Regions from separate parts of the Homo sapiens genome. Here region 1 is linked to region 2. Evidence: fine-mapped expression QTL. Tissue or cell type: skeletal muscle. Region 2 holds a variant in brackets; the other region holds the start of a gene. All regions are shown on one strand. Distances are from middle to middle.

Region 1 (8,186 bases), 68 kb before region 2:
AGAGGAAATGGAAGACTAAGGTTGTTTTAAGGAGTACAACTCTGAATTCCTTTTGCTTTTTTACCTTACAGTTTTTCTCTAGCAAGGATGGTGGCAGCAAGTGAAAGGGAAGATGTGTTTTCAGGATCCGTGGTGAGGGCATTGCATGAGCTTGTTCCAAACCTGCAAAACTGGTTTTCGATCAATTTCTACGATTTTTTTTTTATCTATTTGCTTCCAAGTCTTGCTGCTTCCATTATTACTACTACAATTCAAAGCATCTATAAGAACATTGTAACTGTAGATCTGGTGTGAGAGAATACGTCTAGCCTATGAATAGATGTTTTGACTAGAACAATTCCTAACCATAACAGTCATCCAAATAAATAAGAACCTAAAAAATTCAAACCCTTTCACCAGGATTATCTTACTTGAGCTTATTCTTTTGAAGTAAAATTAATTTCTAACTAGAGAAACAAAATTTAACTCACTTTTGTACAAACAGTAATTCCATTAGAAAATGTCTGGAGTATAACAATGGCCAGACACAGTTAAAAAAAGACAAAACCATGAAACTTACCAATAATTGTTTGAAAGCCTATAATTTCGAAAGGTGCAAAGACAGTAAAAATCCTAAGTGCATTTTAGGACTGTAGTGAAGTGTGGCTATTTATACTCACCAGATCCTAAGGATGGGATTTTCATTTCGAGGAAAGGAAATCGTTGATGAGTCGGTGCCCGTTTACTTTTCTCCACATCACCTTCATTTTGTATTAATTCCACTATCTCCTGAGTCCATGTTGTTCCTTACGTGCACGTAAAATGAAGATGAATAGACATCTAGTATAGTACATTCCTTAAAATATGATCAAATACTTGTTAGAACATCTATGTCTTTTGTTTTGTTTTGTTTTGTTTTGTTTTTTGAGACAGGGTCTTGCTCTGTATCAAGGCTGGAGTTCAATGGTGCAATCTTGGCTCACTGCCTCCTGGGTTCAAGCGATCCTCTCGCCTCAGCCTCCTGAGTAGCAGGGGTTACATGCATACACAATCACCCCTGGCTAATTTTTATACTTTTTGTAGAGACGGCATTTTACCATGTTGCCCAGGCTGATCTGGAACTCCTGAGCTCAAGTGATCTGCTTGCAAGTGATCTGCTCGCCTCGGCCTCCTAAAATGCTGGGATTATAGGTGTGAGCCACCATGCCTGGACCATCTATGTGAATTTAAAAGCTAGGTTTTAAATGGGATTCAGAAGATAGCATTCCTTATTTATATCTTATTATCATAATATGATTTTAAAAAAATACTCCAATTTTGAATGGACATTAGACTGATAAATATACATTTATTTTTTTCTGTCACAACTATTAATTTGGATTGTTATTATTGTTCTATTTATTTAGCTGTATTGTCCTTAGAAAGGACATTCTCCCCAAATTGTGATCTGCTATAGAGAAATGACTACATGATTTTCAAACTCTCTTTTTCCCAGTTGCATAGCGTAGGAGACACTTAGTATTTGTTGGCTGAATGAGTGAACCATTAGGGCTTGAACTTGATATTGACCATTAGCACTTAGTATTCAATTTTTCGCCTTTCTCTGTTTCCCCCATATCTCATGGGCTGAAAGGCTGTAAAAGGCCTTCCCTAAACTCCTTTGCCACTAAGATTCTGAAGGCTATTTAGATCCCTCCAGTGAGATGCATTAGCCTGAGTTTTGGAAGGCAGTGGGGAGATAGAAGTCATCCTTCCTGAGGTGGTGGCTGCTGATAGTAGCCCCAGCAGATAGAAATTTTGCAGAGACCATTCCACGTTCCATGGCCCAGTGCCCTAGACCCAACCACTGCCACTGTGGCCATAGGTAGAATGGTATCCCCCAGCTTCAGTCTGTCTGTGTCTTGCACTGATCCTGACTGATACAGTGATATTGTGCTATCAACATAATCTTCACCCTTTGATGAAGATCTGTTGCACCAGATGTTCTGGCAAAATCCAGGTTAGGAGGATGTTGAGTTATTTTAGGATGGCTTTTTTTATTTTTTATTTTTCCAGAGACAGGGTCTTGCTCTGTTGCCCAGGCTGGAGTACAGTGGTGGGATCCTAGCTCAGTGCAGCCTCCAACTCCTGGGCTCAATGGTCCTCTTGCTTCAACCTCCCAAATAGCTAGGACTGTGAGTGCACACCACCATGCCTGGCTAATTTTTATTTTTTTTTTGTACATAGGAGTCTCCCTATGTTGCCCAGGCTGGTCTCAATCTTCTAGCCTCAAAAGATCCCCCTGTCTTGGCCTCCCAAAGTGATGGGATTACAGGTGTGAGCCACCATGCCTAGCCAGGATGGCTTTCTGAATCCTGATCTAGGTTGATCTTTCCTGTATTATCTGGCCGAAACTCTATAGATTCCTTTTCCCATATTCTCAATTTAGTGCTTTTAAAGGCCTAGAATAAGGGCATAGGTTAGAAAAAAATTAAATTACATTTTATATTTTATAGTAGTTGGTCTCCTGTATTTTCTGGCAGCAACTTTTATTACAGGACAAAGGGCCAAGATATCTTTAGCTATCCATGCAAAGAATAGTCCAGCCATTTGTACTAGTTTTATGGGAATTTATAGCCATAACACTGAATGTCTATAATGAATGAATTGAATGAATTTATAGACATGAGCCAACATGAGGGCAGATTCAAATGTTGCTAGAGGCTCCGGGGTGAGTGGAATGACTTCTCAATTTATTCTCTAGAGGCCAGTGATTCTATGATGTATTTTTTTCTTGTGTCATTCAGAGTATTATTCTTTTAAAAATTTAGGGTGAACTATTTTTGCCATCTATGCTTGTTTCTTCTTCCTTCTAATAAAATAGCCTTCATTAATGTATATGGTTTTAGTTATGATTAAATATTACTTTAGATGGCAAGTATTTAATTTTCTTAGTGTGCTTTTTGAATTGCTTAAACCTCATTAATGCCATGAAAAACCTAAATGAACCATATCTTTGTACTTGCGTTTGGCAGATAGAGAAAAGATTATTTATGTATTGAATTGATAATCAAGTGGAATTGTCAATGAAATTAAGATGATGAGATGTGATCCTCACCAGTGGCTACTTTTAGAAATTTACATTCAGAAAAATTTGATCCTGAATGGGCTCCTGATGAGTAAGATTGGGAAATCAGGACCAAAATGAAACAGATGGACAAAGAAGAGACCAAGGCCTCCATGTGCCTGCAGAATCTTCTGTCAGGATCTTGAGAGATAAGAACAAAAGAGGATTTTGAACAGTCTCAGAAAATACTGAGGTTTAGATTTTTTGATGTGTGTGTGTTTGTGTGTGTATAACAAGAGTTTTTGACAGCTTGATTTTGCAAAGAGCAAATGTATATACAATTTGTGTGTGGACCCAGTAATGTATTTCTAGTAGATATGTAGATATGCAAAAATATTTATAGAGAACTATTTCCACCTCATCATCACCCAATTTTTATGACGTGGTGGCTCGGCTTAAGCTAGTCCTACTTTTACAGACAACTTTGTTAAACTGATTGTTGAGATAAGGCAGTTGGTTCAAAACTTACCACAAAGGAAGGTGGAAATCAGAAGGATGGTTCTCAGACCCTGAGATGGGAGGGCTGCTGAGGTGATATCAGCATTGCAGAACCAAAGCTCCCCTATTTCTTTCCCAAATCAGACTCAGGATCACCTTTCTAGCTCACACACTCAAAGCAGCTTTTTACAAGATCTACAATAAGGGCCTAGATTGGGAATGAATAAATAAACAAGTCTACCCTTTTGCTCTTAACTGTTTTCACTCTCTCCTGGGAAAGTGAAAAAAAAAAAAAAAGGAAGTACATCATAGTATCATAGGAAGATTGAATTCTAAAAATTTGTATGTCATTTTAGTATGTTTCGGTATAGCTTCAGTTTCCACTAGTAACTTTCCTTAGCCATATCACTCTGTCCAGAGTTTTCCAGATCAACTTCTTTATTTCATGACTAATGCATACTTCCACTTACCTTCCTAACTCTCCTCTTCCCCTTCCCCTGCAAGCCCTTCCACCTACCTGCTTTAGGATAGGTAGAAATAAGCAGGTCATCAGGCTTGGCTTGGAAGTTCCAGATCTTATCCCAGATGTCACAGGTGTCTGTCGGTTGAAGAATTCCCTTCACGTAGTTGACACTTAAGCGCTTTGTTCCATCAAATGTAAAATCCTCCATGTCGTGTAAGGCCATTAGTGTAAGAAATCAGAGGGCTCTTCCAGACACAAAGTTATCTTCAGTCAGCATATGGCTGCGTTGTGGATAGAGGCAGCACTCTATCCACCACACTACCACACTATCCAGCCCTCTAGCACAGGCCTGTCTGGGCCAGCAAACAGGGAGAAAGTGAGTTGCAGGCCTCCCGACTCAGGTTCCAGGGAACTGGAACTCTTGTTTATGACTTTGTCCACTGGCAGTTTCCTGAGGAACTGCAGCCCCCTCCTCACCAGGCTGTGGCGTCACAGCAGAGGCGGCCACAAACCCTGCTGGCCAGCAAACAGGGAGAAAGTGAGCTGCAGGTCTCCCGACTCAGGTTCCAGGGAACTGGAGCTCTTGTTTATGAATTTGTCCACTGGCAGTTTCCTGAGGAACTGCAGCCCCCTCCTCACCAGGCTGTGACGTCACAGCAGAGGCGGTCACAAACCCTGCTGGCTGGGTCCCGTTCCAGCCCTTCCGTTCTCTGTGAGTTAACAGGACATAGTATCACATTGTTTATAGCTCTCATGTCTGTGTCCATTAAACCCTTCATAGATAATTTCAGTAATTATTCCTTCTGGGAATTTTAAACAATTAAAAAGTTGCAGGACTTGCCTGTGAAATTACAGATTCTACACAGAATGACTTCCCTGAGAGACTGCAGGGACTTTCCCGTGGGCTATTAACAGTGGGGGCCTGGATGGATCTGAATCTCCCAGTACAAACATCTGCCAGGGTCAGCTTTGTTATTTTTTAAGAGTAAAATAAATAATGCTAAACTGGAGAATTGTAGGGGTTTCATCACAGCTATGAAAACATGTATGCCTCATTTAAAGCAAAAGGGATGCAGAAAACTCCAGAGTTAACAGAAGACAGTGGCTGCCTTAGGAATCCATTCTGCCCCTGATAATCAGAAATTTCACAACTTGCTTCAGTCCCTGCCCCCGGCCTGGCCTGCACCCCAGGGCCATGCCACACTTGCTCCCCATGGCAGCACTCCTTCTGGAGATCTTGTCGGCTCTTGTGTGTCTGGCTGTCTGATTCTCTTTCTTCGTGTCCCAGCTTTGATGCCCCCTTTCTGGAGAAGCCTTCTTTGACTTTCTATGTCATCTCAAGTAGGTCCCTCCTATTTCCTTGCTCATGGCACTTTGTGTTCCTTTAGAGCAACCATTGACAGTTAGTTTTTGCGTGTTTACTTGTTGGCATTTTCTGTCTCCTTCACTACACTCTAAGGCACATGAAATGGGGCCTGTTGTTTTCTCACTGTTTGATAGCTGTATGCCTAGTGTCTGGCATTCTTCTATTTCTCGAAAGAATGAATGAGTAAAACTAAGCAAAAATTGAGGAAGCGAGTTCCTTGGGCCATCATTATGTGGGGACTAGGTGAGTATGGTGGCTGTGGCTTGACATCCTTCAGAGAGAAGTCAGGCTGCCTGTATTTGAACCCTGTGCCAAGTCCCAGTAGCTGTGGGCAATGGCAGGTTACAGAATCTTTCTCTGTTTCATATCACGCTTTTCCTCAGGTCTGAATTGGGGATCTTAACATTATCTACCTCATGGTTGTGGGGAGATAAAACAGCTTATTTAATGCTTGGCAACAGGGAAATGTTGAATAAATCATAGCTGTTAATAATAATGGGTGACTTTGTTCACCATTTCTCTGTGGCCCATGTTCTGGATGCAAACTCAGAAAAGATCAATTCTTTGGCTTTCCCTATTCCTCATCCCCTCCCTCCAGACCATGGTGAGGTGGATGGGCCCTTGAGACAGAGACTGCCAGGTGGAATGCCTGGGATGCATATGCATTTAAACAGACTTATAAAAATCACCTATAATTTTTCAGTTAGATTTTATTCTATAATCTTTTTGGCCCTGTGTGCCATCAGAGTAGAGTGGTAGATATTCAGCAATGCCTTAGCAGTTTTCTCCAGTGCGTTGTGTGCTAGAGGGGGAGGGCTGGGAGATGGGGGAGGATATGCTTCTGGACCCAAAGATGACTGACTGGGATTGAAAATAGATCCAGGGAAGATGGGAAGTTCCAAATAATTTGAAAAGTGATCTTGACTACAAACACTGCTCTTATTCTCACTTAATGTTTTTACTCAATAGTACTTTCTCATGAGGTTAGGAGAATTAAATAAATATATTTAGTGATTATAAGAATAAAGTTGGTGCTAAGTCTATATTTGACAAGCATTGCTTTGGAATTCTAAATATATGGGTTTGAATTTAAACTGCCCCCTAATAGCTGTGTAACTTTTCTAATACTTATCTCTTCTGAGCCTTTCGTTTTTTATTAATCTCACAGGGTTAATGTAATGTTGGATGTAAATAAGGTATCCTATAATCTTGGGATATATTGGGTACCCAAGATAAAGCTAATATACTCTCCCCCTCTAATTCTTCCCTGAACCTCCCTTTCAACTCTGTCACTGTTTGCTTCTGAGCATGGAGAGGAGATTCCAACTCTTAACGCGCTTTAGATGTCCTTTTTGCAAACTACTAACTTGTTCAGGCCTCAAATGTGATTCATTTGCAAAATTTGTAACTGGGGTTTCCAAACTCTTTTTTTGTTAGTAAAATCCAGCATGCTGGTTACTACCCTTAAACAGGTCTCTGTTTGTTTGCTTTTTACGAAAGGAATATGTAGGCAGGGCATGGTGGCTCATGCCTGTAATCCCAGCACTTTGGGAGGCCGAGGCAGGTGGATCACGAGGTCAGGAGATTGAGACCATCCTGGCTAACACGGTGAAACCCCGTCTCTACTAAAAATACAAAAAATTAGCCGGATATGGTGGCAGGTGCCTGTAGTCCCAGCTAGTCGGGAGGCTGAGGCAGGAGAATGGCATGAACCCAGGAGGCGGAACTTGCAGTGAGCCAAGATCGCACCACTGCATTCCAGCCTGGGCAACAGAGTGAGACTCCATCTCAAAAAAAAAAATAAATAAATAAAATTAAAAAAAAGGAATATGTCTAAAAGACGTTTTGACTCGGCACACTGTTTTAAAACACACCCGGCCAGGCGCGATGGCTCATGCCTGTAATCCTAGCATTTGGGAGGCCAGGGTGGGCAGATCACCTGAGGTCAGGAGTTTGAGACTAGCCAGGCCAACATGGCGAAACCCTGACTCTACTAAAAATAGAAAAATTAGCCAGGCGTGATGGTGCATGCCTGGAATCCCAACTACTCAGGAGGTTGAGGCAGGAGAATCACTTGAACCCTGGAGGTGGAGTTTGCAGTGAGCTGAGACTGCACCACTGCACTCCAGCCTGGGTGACAGAGCGAGACTCGGTCTCAAAAAAAAAAAAGATACCCATTGGAGAGTGAGCTAAGCCTGTGTTGAAAAAGTTGAATTGTAATGGTCTTTGTTCTTTGAATCAATATTTAGCTTAGAGGTATTGTAAATGACTTATTTGTTGTTCAATACTTGAAACCGAAGCAAGAGGAAGAACTAACAAGTCCACATAATTAAAACTGGAATCAAATCCAGATTGTTCAGATATTGATAAATATGGTTTATTCATAACTTCTTTTCCCCCTTCCTCTATTTAGATGGCCTTAAGGCCATTCTGTTTGCAGTACACTATTCCAGGAGCTGAGTAGGGAGAAAATGAAACTCAAATGAATTATATTACTCTTTGCTATAATACTTTAATCAGCTTCAGAGGTTGGAGGTAACTGTAAGCACTTAGTGAGATGAAGCAAGGATGTAGGCAATCTATAATTTCAGACAATTCCTTAAAACATAACCTAAGAACCCCTTACATTCTCAGAAAAATGAAAAGCTGTGTCAAATGCTGGGTCATGTAGAGCTTCCAGCTGTAGCAAATATAGATACAGGATGCCCAGTTAAATTTGAATTTTAGATAAACAGTGAATTAATTTTTAGTACATGCATTTTCTGTGCAATATTTGGAATATACTTATTCTTCAAAATAAATCACTGGTTGTTTATTTGAAATACAAATGTGAG
Region 2 (8,186 bases):
TATGATGGTACACATCTGTGGTGCTAGCAACTCAGGATGCTGAGCTGGGAGGATTGCTTGAACCTAGGAGGTTGAGGCTGCAGTGAGCCACGATTGTGACACTACACTCCAGCCTGGGCAACAGAGTGAGACTTTGTCTTAAATTTTTTTTTTTTTTTAATAAGGAGTGAGTATCCTGCTGGTCAACCTGAAATTCTACTTCCTGCTTTTGTAACCAGGTGTGAGAGGCTGAGGGAGGAGGTTCCCTTAACCCTTAACCCTGGAAGTCTCCACACCCATGAACAATTCCCAGCCCTCTCAACTGGAACAGTGTGGCTCCCACCCTTGTGCTGTGTGTATGGCACAGACACAGTAGACATATTGACATGGTAGTCTGAGTGTTTCACCATCTATCTTGGAGCCTGCAGGGGCTTCCTGATGCTCCTAGGATAAAGTCTAACATTCTGCCATGACCATCAAGGCCCCATGTGACATGCCCGGCTCTCTTTGGGGCCCCATTTTGTCAGTTCTCCCTGAGCTTGTAGCTCTTCCCCTCATAGCCCTTCCTTCTTGCCCTGAGACAGGCCCGCCTCACCAAGCCTGCTCCTGGGTCTCCTTCTCTCTGCCCAGTCTCTTGCCTAGTTAAAGCCAGCACATGCTTCACACCTAGGAAGGACCATGTCCTCTCAGGAAAGCTGTGCCTCAGGCCCCAGTCTCAGCTGATCTGCTCTGGCCTCTCGAAGCCTGAAACCATCTCACATGGCACTCTCCTCGGTTGGTGACATGTGTCACGACTTAGTGGACTTTTGCTTCACATGCTAGACCATGAAATCCATAGGGGAAGGGCTTTGCTCACCACTGTATCCCCATCATTCACACAGTACCTGGCACATAGTACGTGTACTATTGAGAATGAATGAATGACTGAATGAAGAATGGCTGTAACTCTTAAGAGGAAAGAAACATAAAATCATTTCTTTTTAGCTGTTGGTACATACTTATGGTGCAGGTATATGTGGGGAGAGGGTGTGCTAGGGCTCTTTGCATCTTAGCTTGAATACTGAATTTCCTGGGGCTAGTTCTATTTCTTGCATCTCTGTTCTTGTTAGATTGGTCCCTCCTTGCTTGAGTTGTGGACAACTGGTCGAGTTGCAAAACACTGTGCTTTACCATCATGGTGGCTTTTCATTCTTGACCCTGATTCTAACGTGTTCCAGTTGCCATGTAGTTTCTACTGGTTGTTGGAAGCCTGAATTTAAATGTGATTTGTGGGTGTTTGAAAAACTCACAGTCCCATGTAATCTCACAGCATTAAACTTCAAAGCTCTTTGAAATACTAAACCTCAAAGTCGGCATGTTTAGGTCCTAGCTAGTGAAGAAAAGGAAGCAGAAAGAGTTTAAACCAAATGACAAAGATTATTTTCTTGACCAAACTTTAGTAAGGTTCTTAACATATCTCCTATACCCCTCTGTGTAATTCTTTGAAAAATCCAGTTTTTGCAAGAAAACTATTAAGTCAATATAGCAGGAACTCCCTACCCCCAACATCTGATCAGGTTCTTCATCCTCCACCACCACCCAGGTAATATCTAATCACCCTGGCCTATCTTTAGCAAGAATCCTGTTGGATCACTGTAGCCAGAACCCATCCCTTTCCTTACCGATGATGTTTCCTCTTAGGGATTTTCTATCCCTCCTTCTCCACCCTTCTGCATGGCTATAAATTCCCACTTGCCCACGTTATATTAAGAGTCGAACACAATCTCTTCCACTGCCAGACTCCATTGCCATGGTCCCTACACCTATGGAGATGGTCCTGACTAAAATCTGCCCTACTGTGCTTTAATAAGTGTCATTGAATAATTTTTTCTTTAACAGGACCAACCAATCAACCAACCAACCACCAACCCACCAACCAACCAACCAATTAAAAGTCAGAACTCATTTTATCATTTGGGATCATAGCTGACCCTGGAGTGAATGTTTTTTTTTTTTTTTAACTATCTTTATATTAGTCCATTTTCATGCTGCTGATAAAGACATACCCAAGACTGGGTAAATTATAAAGAAAAGAGTTCAATGGACTTACATTTCCACATGGCTTTGGAGGCCTCACAAGCATGCAAGTACTAAAGAACTGTGTCTGCAATTAAAATGAAAAAGACCAGGCACAGTGGCTCATGCCTGTAATCCCAGTGCTTTGGGAAACTGAGGCGGGAGGATTCACAAGCATGGTGGAAGGTGAAAGGCATGTCTTACGTGGCAGCAGACAAGAGAAAATGAGAGCCAATTGAAAGGGGAAACCCCTAATAAAATCATCAGATCTCATGAGGCATATTCACTACCAAGAGAATGGTATGGGGGAACTGCACCATGATTCAATTATCTCCCACCAGTCCCCTCCCCCCAACACGTGGGAATTATGGGAGCTACAATTCAAGGTGAGATTTATGTGAGGACACAGCCAAACCATATCATTCCTCCCCTGCCCCCTCCCATATCTCATGTCCTCACATTTCAAAACCAATCATGCCTTCCCAACAGTTCCCCAAAGTCTTAACTCATTTCAGCATTAACTCAAAAGTCCATAGTCCAAAGCCTCATCTGAGACAAGGCAAGTACCTTTCACCCATGAGCCTTAAAATCAAAAGCAAGTTAGTTACTTCCTAGCTACAGTAGGGGTACAGGCATTGGGTAAATATAGCCATTCCAAATTGGAGAAATTGGCTAAAACAAAGGGGCTATAGGCTGCATGCAAGTCTGAAATCCAGTGGGGCAGTCAAATCTTAAAGCTCCAAAATGGTCTCCTTTGACTACATGTTCACATCCAGGTCACTCTGATGCAAGAGGTGGGTTCCCGTGGTCTTGGGCAGCTCTGCCCCTTTGGCTTTGCAGGGTACAGCCTCCCTCCAGGCTGCTTTCACAGGCTGACATTGAGTTCCTGTGGTTTTTCCAGGTGCACTGTGCAAGCTGTCGGTGGACCTACCATTCTAGGGTCTGGAGGATGGTGGCCCTCTTCTCATGGTTCCACTAGGCAGTGTCCCAGTGGGGACTCTTTGTGGGGGCTTCAACCCCACATTTCTCTTCTGCACTGGCCTAGAGGTGGTTCTCCATGAGGAGCCCTCCCCTGCAGCAAACTTCTGCCTGGACATCCAGGCATTTCCATACATCCTCTGAAATCTAGGTGGAGGTTCCCAAACCTCAGTTATTGACTTCCATGCACCTGCAGGCTCAATGCCACATGGAAGCTGCCAAGGCTTGGGGCTTGCACCCTCTGAAGCCATGGCCTGAGCTCTACGTTGGCCTCTTTCAGCCATGGCCGGAGTGGCTGAGATACAGGACACCAAGTCCCTAGGGTGCACACAGCAGGGAAGGCCCTGGGCCCAGCCCATGGAACCATCTTTTCCTCCTAGGCCTCTGGGCCTATGATGGGAG[G/C]GGCTGCCATGAAGGTCTCTGACATGGCCTGGAGATATTTTCCCCATTGTCTTGGTGATTAAGATTTGGCTCCTTGTTATTTACGCAAATTTCTGTAGCTGGTTTGAAATTCTCCCTAGAAAATGGGTTTTTCTTTTCTAGTGAATTGTCAGGCTGCAAATTTTCTGAACTTTTATGCTGTGTTTTCCTTTTAAAATGGAATGCTCTTAACAGCACCCAAGTCACCTCTTGAATGCTTTCCTGCTTAGAAATTTATTTCACTAGATACCCTAAATCATCTCCCTCAAGTTCAAAGTTCCACAAATCTCTAGGGCGTGGAAAAAATGACACCATTCTCTTTCCTAAAACATAGCAAGGGTCACCTTTACTCCAGTTCCCAACAAGTTCCTCATCTCCATCTGAGACCACCTCAGCATGGATTTCATTGTCCATATTATTATAAGCACTTTGGTCAAAGCCATTCAACAAGTCTCTGGGAAGTCCCAAACTTTCCCACATTTTCCTGTCTTCTTCTGAGCCCTCCAAACTGTTCCAACCTCTGCCTGTTACCAGGTTCCAAAGCAACTTCCACATTTTTGGGTATCTTTATGGCAGCACCCCACTCTACCAGTATCAGTTTACTTTATTAGTCTATTTTCACACTGCTGATAAAGACATACCCAAGACTGGGTAAATTATAAAGAAAAAGAGGTTTAATGGACTTACAGTTCCATGTGGCTGAGGAGGCCTCATATTCATGGCAGAAGGTGAAAAGGCATGTCTTACCTGGTGACAGACAAGAGATAATGAGAGCCAAGTGAAAGAGGAAACCCCTTATAAAATCATCACATCTTATTCACTACCATGAGAACAGTATGGGGAAAACCACCTCAATGATTCAATGATCTCCCACGGGGTCCCTCCCACAACATGAGGGAATTATAGGAGCTACAATTCAAGATGAAATTTGGGTGGGGACACAGCCTAACCATATCAACATTACTTCCGTATACAACAAAATTATTTTCAGTGTTGATCATGAATAGAGACAAGTAATAATAATAGTAAAGAAATGTAGTCAGTGAAACTTTTCTTTTATTCAACTTTTGTGTATAGACTCAAGACCAGTAAAAAAATCAGAATGCCAATTTAAATAAAACTAAAATGTCTACAAAAAGTATAAGTCAGACAATTACTAAATCATACCACTGGTGTAATGTTTTATTTCTTGATTCATTCTTAAATTTTAAAACAAATAATTAACACTTAGAAAAGAGTAAATTTTGTTTTTAAAGTTATTATTCAAAGTCAGTAAACTTCCTGTATGAGCACAACTTTGTACTTACTAAACAAAGTGTGAATGTTGCTGTTCACACTCTTAAATTTTACTGTTTTAAATTCTGGATACAACTGAAAACCCCAATGAGAGAATTGAACAAACTGAGGTGTTCTGCTTCTTTTCCTTTACAACCATTGTGCCACCATCATCTATGCCAAATCTACTGTTTAAACAGCAATATCCAAATACTGCAGGGTTGGAGACACAGGTTATACCTGAAGTGAGCTTGCAAGATTCTGAACTGTTATGAACTTAACCTTGGAAGGAAGCAGGCAGAACTACATCTGCCTGCTGGAATTAAAGAGGTAGACTCTATGCTTGGGGTTTCTGAATTAATTTCCATACAAAGGTGAATAAGACATGAAACAAAACAACAAAAATTTTACAATGCAGTGGGGATACAGATAACTTTTATTTATTTACATAATAAAAAGGTGCTTATTTGAAGCTCATATACATATAGTTAAAACTCAGTGGTAACCTAGCTATTATTTAGAACTTAGGCCAATAAGAGTTTTTCTTTTCACTTTTCTTTTCTTTTTTTCCTTTTTTTTTTCTCTTTTTCAGGGAGAAGCATTTTAACACTGACATTGTTTGGAATTGCCAGTGCATGGTAATAATAAAAAGCAGTCAGTTAAGACCAGCCTGGGCAACATAGCAAGACCCTATTTTAAAAAAAATACCCTACGAAATCCAACAAAAAGCATTCAGAATTTTAGTTGGCTTCATTCTTCCTCTTATTGTCTGCTCCCAGGGTGAACTGCTCCTACTACCCTCAGCTATGGAATGCCACTATTTGGGACTAAAAGAAAAGGGTCAAAGTTCAAAATTTGTGATTTGCTGCAGTCATTTATCCATGCACTTTTTTACTCCCTCTACAAGTTCTCAAGGGCACTTGCTGTGTGCCAGGCACTGCATTAGGTACTAGGAGTAAATATGGCATGAGACTGAACCCAAAGAATTAACAATTGAGTGAGAGGTATAAATAAGAAATTGAAGAGTAAATACATAACAACAGGGCTGCAACTGGGACAAATATGGGAAGCAAGGGAAAAGAACACCTCACTTGGTTTAGGGCTTCCCAAAAGGGTGGCATTGAAGCCAAGACCCAATTACCTCCATGCCTGGGAGCCATGCCCATGCTGACGTTGTTGACAGCCATCCTGTCTCCTCCTTTCTGCTTTCACCAGGACGTAACTTGGGTTCCCAAAAGGCCACTGTCATGCTTTCTGTTTCCTATATGACCTAGCACTGGGACTATTCACCAAGTTTTGGTCTTCTGACATCTCCTCTGTGCACTTCCATTTTATTCCCACCCACCAGTGAGGGCACTCAGGCCATGTTTCCTCAGGGCTGGCTGCACCAGGGTTTCCCTCAAAGTGTTCCTTCTGATAGTGACCAGACAGAACTCCAGGATTGAGCCCAGGCTGGAGTTGCCTGAATGGCCAGGACAGATGACAGAAATTTTGTTTTTAATATAGATATAACCTAATATTTGGACTTATACTCAAGGTATTATGATGTTATAGACTGGGAGACTAGGATGCACTTTCCAGAATAATGGGGATTAAAACAATCCTTTTGTACTCAAGTCATACGTTTTACTTAGTTTATTAAGCTACCTTATATCTTACTTTGGAAAGAATAGTTGGGAAAATGGGCATTAGACGTGATCCTTTTTAAAAAATGAAGTGGTGACATACTGTTAATCATCACAGAGATTGTTTGTACTACATTGTATACATTCACAATATGCTTTCAGAGATTCTTCTGGCTGGGACTGAAGGATTGAAGATAGTATTTGCACTCTTGCCATCCACCTTTTAATTTTATTTACATCTTGCTCAGAGTTCCATGCAGAAGTTTATGGAGGTTCCTTCCATCTTTCTTCTATAGATTTCATCAAACCTCTCATTCTGGGCAACAGTGAAGTGGTTTTTCCAATCCCCCACAGTTCCTAGAAAAAGGAAGGCCAGACAGGAGTGTCACTCTGATTGAAAGATGTGGTGTCCCTGAGTAAAGTGGTGTAGTGCCCATACTGAATCTGGCCTGTCCACATACCTGACTCACCCAACTCCCCCTTCAGTGGACACCTGTCCATGAGCAGCTCTCCTATAAGAAGCAGGCCTAGGGGACTCTGTGCAGGGGGATGGACTTCTAAGTCAGCTGGACAACTGACCCAAGGCAGCTAGTGGCCTGCATGACCTGGCCCCACCTGTAGTGTATTTACCTGATGGATTACTACATAGACATAAAAGAATGATGAACTACAGACACACAACCACATGGAGGAATCTCAAAACATTATGTTGAGCAAAAGACACGAGACACAGGAAAGTAAATACTGTGAAATTCCATTTACGTGAAGTCCAGCAACAGGCAAAATCAATCTAGAGTAATAGAAATTGGAAAAACGGTTGTCCCTGGAGGTAGACATTGACTGAAAAGGGCACAAGAGGGAACTTTCTGGGGTAATGAAAATGTTTCATATCTTGATTGGGGTGCGGGTGGTGTGGGTATATACATTTATTAAAATGGGTTGAACTGTATACTTAAGATCTGTGCATTTTTGGTATTTTGATTATATCTCAATAAAAAACTATTTTGGAAAAATATGAATGAGATAATATTTTTCACCAAACAACAACTTAAACTAATTTTAAACAGGGGAAATTCTCTTTTCCCCACCAATACCTCTTCCAGAAAATTATGCAACAGAAATAAAAGCATCTGGAAATAATTTATGCACAAAGATATTTACTGTAACATTATGCATAAAAACAAACATTGAAAACAATAATAACTATAGTGTCTATCATTAAGGGAATAGTTGGATGAATTATGATGCATCCTTCGCTTGGTATAACATGGGACCAAAGAAATCAATGAGGTGTATGAGTCTATATGCCTTGCCCTAGAGGGGTTTCTCATATCCTGGTAAGTAAAGGTATAAAATATGACCCCATTCTGCATTTTAGGGAGCAAGCTTTCATTATGGTTACATATCTTTGTGTCTGTGTGAGTCTGAAGAAGGAGGGTGTATAGAAAGATGGTTATGTATGAGCCTGAAGAAGGGCACCTTGACAAATCATTACCACTGGTTATCCAAAGAGAAAAGGGGTAGAATATTTTGGTTTGTTTCATTGGTATGGAATACTGTTGTAGATTGGAAAATGCAACAACATAAATTCAAGCACATGCAAAATCAAAGAGGAAGAAGAAAAGATGTTTCAAAGCAGTGTGTATACCATGATTTCACTGTTGTGAATAAAAAATCTGTATGTTATAAATGAGAGAGAAAGGGACTTCCATACTGTTGGTAGTTACTTCTTGGGGGTGGAGTTTTTGTGGAGAGACTTTTAAAAAATATAATTTTATACTGATTTTATTTATTTATTTATTTATTGAGACAGTCTCACTTTGTCACCAGGCTGGAGTACAGTGGCATGATCTT

Which allele goes with the higher level. Alleles are on the strand shown, and positions count from the first base shown. SD is a standard deviation of normalised expression in the study named.
In carriers of allele G in region 2, the expression in skeletal muscle of the gene that starts at base 4,593 in region 1 tends to be lower than with C alone (small effect, 0.37 SD a copy in GTEx).

Evidence for each region. PIP is the estimated chance that this variant, and not a neighbour inherited with it, causes the effect. A credible set is the group of variants that fine-mapping cannot tell apart.
Region 1: SULT1C4 starts here. The variant in region 2 is the best candidate, but not a certain one, in a credible set for the expression of SULT1C4 in skeletal muscle (GTEx, PIP 0.64).

What each region holds. Positions count from the first base shown.
Region 1 is chr2:108,374,361-108,382,546 of GRCh38, reverse strand. SULT1C4 (sulfotransferase family 1C member 4) reads right to left here and starts at 4,593. Exons shown (of 7, transcript NM_006588.4): 1 at 4,041-4,593; 2 at 660-785; 3 at 65-162. The coding sequence starts at 4,209.
Region 2 is chr2:108,306,855-108,315,040 of GRCh38, reverse strand. SULT1C2 (sulfotransferase family 1C member 2) reads right to left here. Exons shown (of 8, transcript NM_001056.4): 8 at 5,126-6,689. The coding sequence ends at 6,577. Among named protein-coding and RNA genes, the nearest start is that of SULT1C2, 22 kb to the right of the region's middle. The variant G/C (reference allele first, on the strand shown) is at 3,415.